2 separate regions of the Homo sapiens genome follow, and region 2 is linked to region 1. The links come from fine-mapping of genetic effects on gene expression. Tissue or cell type: whole blood. Region 1 holds a variant in brackets; the other region holds the start of a gene. All regions are shown on one strand. Distances are between the middles of the regions. Region 1 overlaps CASP4 (caspase 4). Region 2 holds the start of CASP4 (caspase 4).

What was found. PIP is the estimated chance that this variant, and not a neighbour inherited with it, causes the effect.
Region 2: it holds the start of CASP4, and the variant in region 1 is fine-mapped to the expression of CASP4 in whole blood (TOPMed, PIP above 0.99).

Annotation. Positions count from the first base shown.
Region 1 is chr11:104,942,412-104,946,735 of GRCh38, reverse strand. It overlaps CASP4 (caspase 4), which reads left to right. Exons shown (of 9, transcript NM_001225.4): 8 at 1,885-1,988; 9 at 3,763-3,870. The coding sequence ends at 1,983. Among named protein-coding and RNA genes, the nearest start is that of CASP4, 24 kb to the left of the region's middle. The variant C/TC (reference allele first, on the strand shown) is at 1,962.
Region 2 is chr11:104,966,305-104,970,684 of GRCh38, reverse strand. It overlaps CASP4 (caspase 4), which reads left to right and starts at 2,111. Exons shown (of 9, transcript NM_001225.4): 1 at 2,111-2,166. The coding sequence starts at 2,160. LOC124902813 (a long non-coding RNA gene) reads right to left here. Exons shown (of 2, transcript XR_007062986.1): 1 at 2,525-4,380; 2 at 2,105-2,400. RefSeq lists an enhancer at 1,112-2,311.

The DNA of each region.
Region 1 (4,324 bases):
GAGGGGTAAATGAGGCCTACATGACGTAATCCTATCTAGGACTCACATTTTCGTGGGAGATATGGATACTGAAAATGTGGGTTAACAAACAAATATGTGCTTACAGATTGTGATAGGATCCATAAAGACATGTGAGAGGGAACAAAAAAGAAGTCATTCTTTCAATAAAAAAGTGCAGAAGGAAAGGTTTGCTACTTCTTGCCCAACTTGGGACATTCCTTATTCCCACTACTTCCTATGTTATTTTTCTCCATAGCTCGTACATCTACCCACTCAGCAAATATTAATAGTTTATTTATGTGTCTGGTTTTTTACTTGTATTTACTCACTAACATGCAAACTTCGTGATGGCAGGGATTTGCTCAGCAATTCAACAAACCTGGCACGTAGCAGATATTCAATTAATAATTATTGAATAAATACATGCATAAATACACAGATAAATGCACCCTCTTGTTTAAAGAGAAAATGGGATTGGTATTAACACAGAATAGTATAATTATTAATAAAGTAAAAATTGTAGAGAACAGTAAAACTCCTGCGGGAAAAGAAAGATACACCTCTGGCGTTTATAGAAGAAAGCCATCCAGAACCAGCACAGTCACTCATTCCTGTAATCCCAGCACTCTGGGAGTCCGAAGGAGGGTGGAGTGGCTTGAACCCAGGAATTTGAGGCCAACCTGGGCAACATGGCAAAACCCATCTCTACAAAAAATACAAAAATTAGCCGGGCATATTGACTGGAACCTGTAATCCGAGCTACCTGAGAGCTGAGATGGGAGAATCGCTTGAGCTCAGGAAGCGGAGGTTGCAATGAGCTGAGATTTCACCACTACCCTCTAGCCTGGATGACAGAGTAAGACCCTGTCTTAAAAAAAGAAAAAGAAAGAAAAGTAGTGAAATAAGAAGAAGGAGGAGGAGAAGGAGGAGGAAATGCAGCATAAATTGAGACAGAGCTCCTGTGAATAGAGATCTGGGAAGTTAAATCTTTTAAATCTTCTTGGATAAGTGGGAGTTAGACATTGTACTTTCAAGGATGTTCATAGAAAAAGGAACTAAAAATTCTGGATTTAGGATAAGTAGACTTACCAATTAGTTGATGCAAAAAAACTACAAGATCAGCTTGGTGGTGGAGATATGAAAGTTGTTCAGTGTTTGGGTCTTAAAGATAAGATACTGGGGCTGGGCACGGTGGCTCACGCCTGTAATCCCAGCACTTTGGGAGGCAGAGGCAGGAGGATCATGAGGTCAGGAGTTTGAGACCAGCCTGGACAACATAGTGAAACCACGTCTCTACTAAAAATACAAAAAACCAATTAGCTAGGCGTGGTGGTGGGCACCTGTAACCTCAGCTACTTGGGAGGCTGAGGCAGGAGAATTGCTTGAACTCTGGAGGCGGAGGTTGCAGTGAGCCGAGGTTGCACCATTGCACTCCAGCCTAGGCAACAGTGCAAGACTCCATCTTAAAAAAAAAAAAAAAAAAGAAAGATAAGATACTGGGATTAAATTCTCCTTCAATTGAGGAATCAGCCTTGGTGAGTGTTGAAAGTACAGAGTCCTTCCTTATCTGGTTTTCATGAATAGTTTTCAAGGGATAACTTATTGTCAGATCTGTAGGTCAGAAATGGAAAATAGAGGAAATGAATGTTGAAAGACCTTGGATTAGACATGAGGTGTTTATTTTGATGTAAAGCATACAGTCTGACATGGAGTGGCAATTCTAAGAGGTAGGGTACAATGTTGAGGAGTTAGAATGCCCATGGGCTTGGTTCTATGAAACCTGCAAGCTCACTTCATTCCAGGTGTTGTCTGGTACATGGTGAAAGATGCTTTCTGAGACTTGAAAAGAGTCGTATCTCATCTACAGCCTATTTTCTTTTTCAGGTACAGCAATCATTTGAAACTCCAAGGGCCAAAGCTCAAATGCCCACCATAGAACGACTGTCCATGACAAGATATTT[C/TC]TACCTCTTTCCTGGCAATTGAAAATGGTTAAGTATTGAGAGTTGTTGGTGGTATGTGAAATAAATAAGAGAGTGATATTGGTGGTTAAGTTCAATGACAAATGACAGCTGAGTACTTGGATGGTCAAATTGGTGTTTTTGTTGATATAGTCTGGTGATTATCTGCTACTTCTTTCCGACTTACATGTATTTGGATTCCTCCAACTCTACAATTAATCAGGCAATCAATCAATCAATCAAGGAGGTAAGGAAAACCGCAGCAGAATGTGATGATGAAAAACCAAGGATAGTAATTATTAAAATAGAAACATGCTCATGCTTCCATTACTATTTATATTCATTTATCTCTCATAGTCTTTCTCTTTTATTCCCCTTTCTTACACACACACACACACACACACACACAGAGAGAGAGAGAGAGAGAGAGAGACACTAAGTAGCCAAACATTGCATCAAACCCTAAACAAAACAGAGTAAACAAAGGAGCTAACTCTGGAGAAAGCAGCATTTTGATCCTCTGAGTGAGGATGTCACAGCAAATACCACATTACTGACATCCAGATACCATTACCAGATGGTACAGAATACATCCTACACTGTAGAGTTTGTGTTGATCCAGGCTCTGGTTCTCAGACTGTTCTCACAATGCAGATCACCAATCACTCAGGGTTGGCTTTTGAATCTTCAATCACAGTCCAGAAGTTCCTTCAAGCTCCCATGTAACTTTTGTTATTATTTTGACCAAAATATTATAGAATGGGTACATTGAGTCTGGACTAAATGATGACTTTCTTCACTCATAATAGCTTTATTTAACACTAGACTATAAGACTATTATCAATCTCCCTCTAAGATACATACTTAAAATTATATTTTATAGTGAAATGTATAAAGTTGTTCTCAATACTTCCAACATTTACCACATAATTTTTACTCTTGGTTTCTGACACTTCAGTCACAATATTGCATCATTTCAGCATAACAGCTTTCAGTGCCTAATCCATCCAGTGGGGCTGCATTTGGACATTGAATTGTTTGTTGACTAATATTTGCCAACACTAACTGTGCACCAGGTTTTGTTCTAGATGCTTGGAATATGCCAATTAACAACGTAAATAGATTTCTTACACTCTGAAAGCTTATATTCTAGTGAGTAGAAACAGACTCTGAAGACATAAAGTGGTAAATATATCACAGGCCGGAGAGCAAAAAAAGATAAAAGGAAAAATAAAGGAAGACAAAGGAAAACACAGAATGATGGATGCTGTACTCCTATAGATATTTCACTCAAAAGCTTTTCTTGAAATAATGAAATCAGAACAAAGAATGGACAGAGTTGGGGAGTGAATAATGTGGTTCTTATGCAGGAAAAGTGTTCCAGCACAGAATACAGCCAGTGCAAATGCCCTGGGATAGCAATGCACTAAACATGTTTAAAGAACTGCAATGAGACAGTGTGACCAAAAGAGAACGTGAGTGGAGAAAATGGCAGAGACAAATTAGGAGAAGCAGTGAGAAGCCAGATCGCGTGGTTCTATGTTATCACATGGTAAACCTTTAAAAATTATTATCTGAGCGAGACAGGAAGCCTTTCTAGTGCTTTAGAAAAAAGAAGTAATATGCTTTAAATTAGGTTTTACAAAGATCACATTTTGGTGAATAGACTAAGATGTCACAGATGGAAGTCAAGGGAAGTGGCAAGAGCACATGGAAGAGGATGCAAGAAGAATCATGATGAGGGATGGGATGAAGGCAGCAAGGGGTAACCATCTTGACCTTCTGTTTTTTCTCTCCCCTGCAGGAAGCCACAAGCAGCCCAGCCCTCCTTAATCAACTTCAAGGAGCACCTTCATTAGTACAGCTTGCATATTTAACATTTTGTATTTCAATAAAAGTGAAGACAAACGAACTGTGTCTTTTTCTAATAGAGAATATAATCTCAATGAAAATGGTGGGTGAGTGGAAATGAAGTGGAGGAAGCTAACTGGATTTTCGAGCTTTATGGCTCATGAAATATCTATACTTGGCTGATGAAGAAAACTGACTGATTTATCCCCAACAATAGGATGAAAGATGTTGCCGAAAACTATAGTGAGATACTGCCTCATACCCATTTGAATGACTCCCATCAAAAAAAGCCCCAAAAAACAGAAAATAACAAGGGTTTGAAGGGATGTAGAATAATTGGAATCCTGTGCTCTATTGGTGAGAATTTCAAATGGTACAGCCACCTTGGAAAACAGTATGGTATTGCCTCATAAAATTAGAAGTAGACTTACCATATGCTCCAGAAACTCCACCTATGGGTACATAACTAAAGTAATTGAAAGCAGGGTCTCAAAGATATATTTATACACCCACAT
Region 2 (4,380 bases), 24 kb before region 1:
CCTCTCTCTCTGGCTGCCCTTAACATTTTTTCCTTTCATTTCAACCTTGGAGAATCTGACGATTATGTGTCTTGGGATTGATCTTCTTGTGGAGTATCTTACTGGGACTGTCTGAATTTCCTGAATTTGAATGTTGACCTGTCTTGCTAGGTTGGGGATGTTCTCCTGGATGATATCCTGAAGTGTGTTTTTTGACTTGGCTCCATTCTCCACATCTCTTTCAGGTACTTCAATCAGTCATAGGTTTGGTCTTTTTACATAGTCCCATAGTTCTGGAAGGTATTGTTCATTGCTTTTTATTTTTTTCTGTAATCTTTTCTACCTGCCTTATTTTAGCAAGATAGTCTTCAAGCTCTGATACTCTTTCTTCTGCCTGGTTGATTTGGCTATTGATACTTGTGTTTGAATCATGAAGCTCTCACGCTGTGTTTCTCAGCTCCATCATGTCATTTGTATTCCTCTCTAAACTGGTTATTCTAATTAACAGTTCCTGTAATCTTTTATCACGGTTCTTAGCTTCTTTGCCTTGGGTTAGAATATAATCCTTTAGCTCAGCAAAGTTTGTCATTACACACTTTCTGATACCTACTTCTGTCAGTTCATCCATCTCAGCTTCAGCCCTGTTTTGTGCCCTTGCTGGAGAAGTGTTGAAATCATTTGAGGAGAAAAGGCATTCCAGCTTTTGGAATTTTCAGCGGTTTTGCGTTGGTTTTTCGTCATCTTTGTGGATTTATCTACCTTTAATCTTTAAAGCTGTTGACCTTTGGATGGGATTTTTGTAGGGTCTTTTTTGTTGATGCTGTGTTATTGTTGTTTTATTTTTTTTTGTTTTTCTTCCAACATTCAGGCCCTTCCTCTGCAGGTCTGCTGCAGTGTGCTGAGGATCTACTCCAGACACTGTTCACCTATGTATCACCAATGGAGGCTGCAGAACAGCAAAGAGTGCTGCCTCCTCCTTCCTCCGGAAGCTTCTTCCCAGAGGATCACTGACCTGACGCCTGTTGGAACTCTCCTGTATGAGGTGTCTGGCAACCCCTGTTGAATGGTCTAACCCAGTCAGGAGGCCCAGGATCAGGAACTCACTTAAGGAAAGAGTCTGGCTATCCCTTAGCAGAGATGGTGCACTGGGCTGGGGGAATCCCCCTTGTCTGGATCGCTGATACTCTTCAGAGCCAGCAGGCAGGAAAGATTAAGTTGGCTGAACCTGAGACCGCAGCTGCCCCTCTCCGCAGGTGCTCTGTACCAGGGAAATGAGAGCTCTGTCTGTAAACTCTAGGTGGAGTTGCTGAAATTCCTGCAAGCATTTCTTGCCGGGAGAGGAGGGATGGATCCCGGTCCCACCTAAAGAAGCAGTCTGGCCATGATCTGCCACAGCGGCTGTGCTGCACTGTGAAGACTGCTGCCCAGTCCAATCTGCCCAGCCTCCCTAGCACTGGTAGGGAAAAACCGCTGACTAGAGCTGCAGTAATGGCAGTCGCCCCTCCCCTGGGGAACTCGGTCATCTCTGGCGTACTCCAGGCTGCTATGCTGGCTAGTGGGGATTCTAATCCAGCGGATCTAAGCTTGCAGGCTTCTGTGAGAATGGACCTGCTGCAAGGCCATTTTGCTCCCTGGCTTCAGCCCCCTTTCCATGGGAGTGGACGGGACTCCTGCCTCACTAGAGTTCCGGGAGCTGCTGGACTATGTAAAAACTCCTGCAGCTCAGTGCCTGCCCAAAAAGCTGGAAATATGAACTATTGGGTTAATTCTTATCAGGAAATGAAAAAGAGTTGTTAGATTAAACTTCTTCAGTCATTGTCGTTCTTTGTAATCAGAGAAAGAAAAACTGAGAGATCAGGAAGAGAAGAGACAGATGGATAGAAGAAGTTTGGGTGGCCACAGGAAACAAGAAAAGAAACAAGCTGAGGTGTCAACCCACAGGATAATATTTTGTCATTTTCATTTTTTTCCCCCAAGTCAGAAACTAAATTCCAGTAATTGGATGCCAATTTGCTGATGACAAGGCACTTCCTGATAATGAGTCTGGAATTCTGAGCAGCAGTTTCACAATCTGTAATTACACGTTTCCGCCCTTTGCAATAAGGAAATACATAGTTTACTTTCATTTTTGACTCTGAGGCTCTTTCCAACGCTGTAAAAAAGGACAGAGGCTGTTCCCTATGGCAGGTGAGTCCTTTTCTGACTAGGAGTTTGGGAGTAGGAACTTAGAAAACACTTGATTTATTGCTCTGAAATAAACACAAGAAAGGAAGTGAGCCGATAGCACACATGTTGAATTCCTTTTCTTACTGATTGTGTGTAGTTTGAATCATGGGACCTGGTGTTAGAGATATTGACGGAGGTCATATGTTTTCCAGATGTCTTTGAGCCAGAAAGAAGTTAATTCCTTTCTTTCAGCTTCTGGTAATCAAAGGGAGGGTAAAGAAAGCCAGAGGAAGTTATTTGTGTGAGACAATTCTAGAAGTTTCGAAATGCACTCTGAAATCTTTCTTTTGATTCCAAATTAATTGCCCAGATCACAAACCTTTTTCGCAGAATCAGATCTGAGAGCCTCTGAATTGTTATCTTCTTCGACATCTCTTATTGTGAATTACATTCTTGGTCTGTTTAAAGTGATTCAATTTTTTCCTCTTTCTCGTTGGTCCTGATACTGACTACTTTAATATAATATTTCATGGGTTAATATCACAGTTGTTTTGTTTTGCCGTTGTTATTGTTTTTAACTGGTATCCTTCCCTCCAGGACTTAACTCTCCAATCCATTCTGCACACAACTTTTAGGTCACCTGTCTTATACACAGAAGCTGAAAAAGCCTAAGGGATAGAGTTACTTAGGCAGCTAGTATTCCAGCAGGTCATAACGCTTCTTTGGCTTCATTCTCCTCACAGGAAAAGGAAGAAATTGGACTAGATCAGTGAATTCTAAACCTTATAACATATCGCAGCAATCTGTAGTCATATAAAAAAAGTCAGATGACTACCCCCTTCCTCACCGCGAATAGCTCAATCTTAAATACCCTGCAGGCATTTATTACCTTTGAAGATCGTCACATAATTCTTATGAAACTGACTTGACATAGGTTTGTTCTATTAGGAAAGTTGACCAGTTAGTTAACACTCTCTGCTTATCTGCTAGTGATCTATTAATGTAATTAACTTTGCTCAGGGACATACAGTGGCTCCCTATTGCCTTTTCTCTTTTTTACTATCTGAACTTTCAGACAATTTTTTCTACCTTTTGAAACATGTGTATCCAGTTTTTCCATTAATCTTTGTAAAGCATGATTTCAACTTCATAAAAAAATACTGTATTTACTTCACTCATATTACCTTGTTGTTGTTTCTTTACTCCTTTGATTCTCCCTATAGAACAATTCTCTCCGGGGTTTATGTCTAACTTCACAACATTTAACTTAAGCTCTGGAATCAAGGGATCATTAGATAAAGATAGGGTAAATTGAAAGCCACTAGTCAAAAACAAGTCGTGGTTTGATAATTATAAACAACCAAATGTAGACAGCTATTATTACCTTAAACTCTTGAGGAATTGTATCCTGTAATGTGTTTAAGCATTACATCACTTTGCCTGGAACCAAAACTGTGGTCCTGATAAGTTTTTTCCTCTAATTGATTCCTGCCATTTTTATTATCACTGCAGCTTTCATTCAGTGATTATTATAATAACAAAAAATAATCTATAGTAACCATTTCTTTAAAAAATACTTACCATATGATAGCTAATTCATGCACTCTCTCTGATTTAATATTTAACATCAATCAATACAGTTGTGCTATTATTTCCATATTGTAGTTGAAGGGGATACTTAGAGAATGCCTCCAAAATATGCTTTAGGTCAAAAGTCTGTTGAGAGGAGTGGTCTCAGGTTGGCATGACTCTCAAACTCTGCCATTAATCTAACTTTCTGCAAACATCTTCAAATACTTGCCCTGTCTCTGATCACTGCCACTTCAGTCCTGGCCTCACATTTCTATTCCTTCTAAAGCCCAGCTCTCCCAGTTTTCTGGTTACACGAGACACCCTCAAGCCTTTGTGCTTTTTTCCTTACTGCTCTCTGCCAAAAGACCAGCTCCTAGTTTTCCAGGGGACAAATTCCTACCAGTCCTTCAGGTCTCAGTGCCAAGCCCTCCCTTCTCTGGACAGCTGTACCTGAGACACACTTTGCTTATGCTTTTCTTGAGCTTCTGCTAATTATTTACATTCTTATAATATTTTTCATTTTACTTATTTGCATATGTATTTTTCCACTTGACTGCAAACTTCAAAGTGTACAGACATGCTGCCAAAGTGGTACCCCCAATAACAGCAGAGTAAGTTTCAAGAATTTATGCTCATTAAATATACCTGAATGGATAGGGGAAT